2 separate regions of the Homo sapiens genome follow, and region 1 is linked to region 2. Evidence: fine-mapped expression QTL. Tissue or cell type: whole blood. Region 2 holds a variant in brackets; the other region holds the start of a gene. All regions are shown on one strand. Distances are between the middles of the regions.

Region 1 (2,683 bases), 350 kb after region 2:
ACGAAACCTGTCCCTGGTGCCAAAAGGTTTGGGGACCACTGAACTACAGTATAGATCAGACTCTACTGTTACAAGTACAGATGATGTATTAGTTCTGAATACTACTGGGAGAAAGATTCTAAAAAGCAGTCACAGAAAAGGTGGTAAGACAATTTATGTGGACCTTGATTTCAAGACTTTCACAAATGAGGAGGGAGAGAAGATAACTTCAAGTTTGGAGAGCAAATGAGCATAGGGTGTACAGTGATAATGTAAGATGGTAGATGGTCCCATGTGACTAAATTGTAGGGAGACCCTACATGGAAAGCTGCTGATGATTATGGTGGGTGATAGGACTGAGTCTTGTCAGTCAGCCTTGATATTACACGTAAGAGTTTGGATTTACAAAAAAAAAAAAAAAGAAAAAAGAAAAAGACATCTAGGCATTGGGGTCCCTTTAAAGATCAGGTGGAATGTTTTCCTGATGTTCAGGATTCTTCCTGCCTGCCTCCCTCCTTGCAGAAGAAAAGATAGGTAGGTATAAGTAGTAGGTAGGTAAAGGTATGTATAAGCAGGTATAATTCAAAAGGTATATGAAGTACAGCGAAGTCATTGTGTTAGATAAAAGCAGAAACTACAAAACTGTAAGGTTTTGCTTATTTTGTCACGCTCTGCTTCTGTTTTTGGTGTTCTGTGGCTCTTTTCGCCGATCCTTTGTCTCAGCCTCATTTGTAAGTGACTTGTTTTTTCCATTTCTCATTTTTTTTTCCATCTATTAAAGTGAGGGGATTGGATCCTAGATCAGTTCAACTGGTGTAAGCCTTTAGAGCCAGGCATGGTGGCTCATGCCTGTAATCCCAGCACTTTGGGAGGCCAAGATGGGTGGATCACTTGAGGCCAGGAGTTTGAGACCAGTCTGGCCAACATGATGAAACCTCGTCTCTACTGAAGATACAAAAATTAGCCAGGCATGGTGGTGTGCATGCCTGCAATCGCAGCTACTCAGGAGGCTGAGTTAGGAGAATCACTTGAACCCAGGAGGCGGAGGTTGTAGTGAGCTGAGATCATGCCACTGCATTCTCCAGCCTGGGCAACAGGCCAAGACCCTGTCTCAAAAAAAAAAAAAATGCCTTTAGAATGTGGTTAGAAATAATTTTTGGATTGGTATAGATTAACTCTGAATGTTTTCCTGTGTTAGAGGAAGGAAGTGGGATAAATGTAAAGTTTAAAAAAAATGCTCCTTTTTCAAAATTTTGAGGGGTTAGGTATTAAGAATCTTTTAAAGTTTTACTCATTTAAAAAATTTAGATAAAATGGAAGATTCATTCTTAAGGTTGGTGATATCAGAAATGTAAGTGCTGTGTCATTGTCATTTCTTATTTTGGCCTACATAACCGTAACCAGACTTCAGACATCATGCTGCCTGTATCACATGGCTAACAGTGGGAGGTATCTGGTGTGTTCTTCCTGGAGAAATAGATTGAAATTCATTTGGACAGAAATGTTGAAGGCAGGTGCCTGATCCAAAATGCATTTAGTCAGGACTGAACACAAGCTGCCTGGATAGTTCCTGTAAGTAAGCAAGGTAGCCTTTTAACTTTGTGATGCAAGGTTTTATGTATGTGAGTATGTGTGTGCAAGTGTATACAGTATTTTTATATCCAGAGAACAGGGCTCCCTTAAATGGGGGGTGGGGGGGACTCTGGTAACTACATGAAAGTAAAATATAACTTCTTTAAACCTATATCAGTGTGTTCTTTCATGTAGGAATGTAGCTGTGTGATGGCCTCAGCTATTCTAGTAATCAAGGGCTCTCTGCTGTTGCTAATCCTATGATGAACAGGACAAATGGTGGTTACGAACAGAACCCTGTCAAGCCTGGAAATTCCATCAGTTTGTAATAGCACAGCTGTTGTCCTTGAACTGTGTAGGGAGGAACCTAGGGGTGGACAGTTAATATATTCTTCAGGGGGGTTGTAGTTTATTGCTCAGGATAGTCAAGATCTTCCTCAGTTGTCTGTTGCTATCTGCAAGTCTGGTTTGGAGGAGAAGCAGGAGAAATTCAGATTTGTCTGAGGAATCATATGTGTCTGTGAACTGTGTAAGTTGGTAGTTGATTCCTGTAGACATCCTTGCTAAAGATTTATTTTTAAGTAAAATATCATTTTGCTTGAAAGTATAAATCAAGGTTTTGTGGTTAAATAAATTAAAAACAGCACAGCTGCCAGACAAAGTTCAGCTTGATGTATAACAGGCCTCTGAAAGAAGTTCAGTAAGAAACAAATCTGGGTAATAAAGTTAATTAGTAACTAAAAACCTGCTAGGCATACTAAAAAAAAATCTGATGTTGAATATTAAATTATTATGAAGCAGGCTATACCTGTATCCATCAAGATTATAAATGATCTCCCACACTGGCGACGTGGGGTTCCTTTCAAGCCTGAGGAATGAGCACTATATTTTGGCCACAGCATTCTCACTAATGTCCTAGGATAGCAGCTTAGTGTTGGCTTTAGAATTCTCTGTCATTTAAATGTCATGCAAAAACAAACGTATAAAAGAAAACATTAACCCAGATATCTTTATGGTTCCTTGTCTTGTCCATAACCGCCCCCGCCCCCACCCACCCAAAAAGGACAGGCTATCAGTTATAGAGAAAATATAAGTGAGCATTATAAGCAGTATCCTACCTTTAGTAATAATT
Region 2 (2,683 bases):
GTCCTCTCAAAATTCCTACGTTGAAATTCTAACCCTTGGTGTGATTGGAGGTGGGGGGCCTTTGGGAGGTAAGTGGGTCACAGGCAGAGTCCTTATGATGGGACCAGTGACCTTATAAAAGAGACCCCAGAACGCTCTCTAGCCCTGTTCATATCATGCGAGGACATGAGAAGGTGTCAGCTGCAACCTGGAAGAAGGCCCACACCAGAACCTGACCGTGCTGACAGGTGACTCTTGGACTTCTCTCCTCCAAAATTGTGAGAAATAAATTTGTTTGTAAGCCACCCAGTCTATGGTACTTTGCTGCAGCATAAGACAGGGGTCCCTCTGTGAGGCTCAGTGGCCAACCCTTCTTAAAACTGCTGCCTCCAGGCAGACACACGGGAGTGGTTGTCGGGAGTCCCATTTATGATACAGTAGTAAGAGAGAGGAAAAATACAAATTGACATGGTGAGGAAATAAAAAGGAAAAGCAAAGACCAAGAAGCACCTAGAGGGGCGTGGGGAAAGGCGAGTCAAGGGGTGTGTGGAGAGGAGTGAGAAAAATACAAGGGTAAAAGATTTGTATTCCATAAATAGGAAATAATGCAGAGAGAGCCAGAGCCGTGGAAGGACACAGGAAGACAGAAAGCTTGGAACGGACTCTATTGTAGAGGAACAGAATTAATGCAAAGATATAGAAGGCTGAGAAATAAAACACTTTAAAATATGACAAGGGAAGAGAAGAAACAGTAAAATAAAGGATATTTTAAAAGTATTAAAGCACAAATATTATAAAATACACAGATAGGAAATATAACTGTAAGTGGACTGAGACAGAGTAGGAATAAAATGGAAAAGAGGACAGATGAGAAAGAGGCAAACATAAGGAAACTGAAGCAAATTGCCGAATGAGTGAATGAATGAATTTGAAATAGAGGAACAGAGGCCAGGCACAGTGGCTCATGCCCGTAATCCCAGCACTTGGGGAGGCCGAGGCGGGTGGATCACCAGGTCAGGAGTTTGAGACCAGCTTGGCCAACATAGTGAAACCCTGTCTCTACTAAAAATACAACAAATTAGCTGGGCGTGGTGGCGGGTGCCTGTAATCCCAGCTACTTGGGAGGCTGAGGCAGGAGAATTGCTTGAAGCTGGGAGGTGGAGGTTGCAGTGAGCTGAGATTGCGCTACTGCACT[C/G]CAGCCTGGGCGACAGTGCGAGACTCCATCTCAACAACAACAACAAAAAAAATAGAGGAACAGGAAGGTGTGTTGGGGGGTGGTGGTGGCGGGGTGCTACCAGAAAAGCGGCAGAGAAAGACACATTGCAACAATAGATGAAGACAAATCTAAATGTCACAAGAGTTAAGAGATGTAAAATTTGAGAGATGTGAAATGGTAACTGCGTAATAGTCTAAGCAAAAGATAAGATGCAGGTGAGAGAATGGTCCGGACATTGTCTAGGAGAAAGTAGATTAAAGCAGGCAGCTGGGGAAACCTGAGAAGAGGGATCCATAAGGAGTTGGGCAGCCTGAGAGTAGGACAGAGAGGGAGGGACGACACAGCATGGGAAGTAAAGGGGGCGTAGCAAGGGGAGAAGTAACAGCACACCTTTCATGGCGCCTTCTGCAGGCAAGGCACCCGTCTAAACAATTTACAGGGGCTCATCTATTTAATCCTCACAACGGCTAGATGAGGTAAGTCCTATTACTGGCCACCTTGCCAGGGTGCTCCGTGTTCTCTTAGATTCTGAATTTGTCTGGCATCCATCACAGGGCCAGTTGTATTCTCTGTATATTTTTAATTTTCTGTATTCTTGATGCTCTGGCATTTGTGATCTTGCTGACTGGGGAGAGACTCTCCTTCCCAGGCCTAGCCAGATAGCAAAGGAGAGTGCCTTTTATGCAAACGAACCAAGCTACAGCCCACACCCACAATCATCTCCTTTACCAAACTCTCACACAGCAAGTTAATATTCCTCCTGCCCTAAATCAACCCAGGGCCAGGTACCAGACAACTGGAGACGGCCCCTATGCCTCAAAGCCAGCCAGAACCATTTAAACTAGCCCATTCTAAAAGGCTTACCCTGTTCTGCCCTCTTCGTTTCTTACAGAAAACACAATAAAGGCTCAGGCCTATGCTGCCCCGCCCCTTCTGCCTCCTGACTGCCCTTGGTGCTCTCCATGTGGCCCTGCGTGGGGAGCCAGGCCTCTTGTTTATAGGGATCTGTGAGTATAAACTTCTTCCTTCATGACAATCATTGCTGTGTCTGCACGCTTTGCCACACCTGATTAAAACCAATCCCAGGCACCAGTTTTAGAACACATAGGTGGGAGCCAACACATACAGAGGTTAGGTGACTTGCCCACAGTGACACCCCTGGGAAATGGCACCGGGTTTGAACCCCAGCAGTCAGCCCCAGAGCCAGTGCTCTTAGCTGTTATGCTCTAATGGCTCAAAGAGAAGAGGGAATTGGGAAAACTTGGAATGATTAGGAGAAGAATGAAAGTGGATATATTTTTAGCCTTGAGTTTAAAATGCTAAACAACTGAATAAAACATGGTCCTGTAGTCCCAGCCACTCAGGAGGCTGAAGCATGAGAATTGCTTGAGCCCAGGAGGTGGAGGCTGCACTCCAGCCTGGCAACAGAATAAGACCCTGTCTCAAAAAAAAAAAAAAAAAATACAAAATGTGTTCAAAGAAATGAAG

Evidence for each region. PIP is the estimated chance that this variant, and not a neighbour inherited with it, causes the effect.
Region 1: MAP4 starts here. The variant in region 2 is fine-mapped to the expression of MAP4 in whole blood (TOPMed, PIP above 0.99).

The regions. Positions count from the first base shown.
Region 1 is chr3:48,015,202-48,017,884 of GRCh38, reverse strand. It overlaps MAP4 (microtubule associated protein 4), which reads left to right and starts at 1,469. Exons shown (of 21, transcript NM_001385682.1): 1 at 1,469-1,551.
Region 2 is chr3:48,369,356-48,372,038 of GRCh38, reverse strand. No RefSeq gene overlaps it. Among named protein-coding and RNA genes, the nearest start is that of FBXW12, 1.5 kb to the left of the region's middle. The variant C/G (reference allele first, on the strand shown) is at 1,175.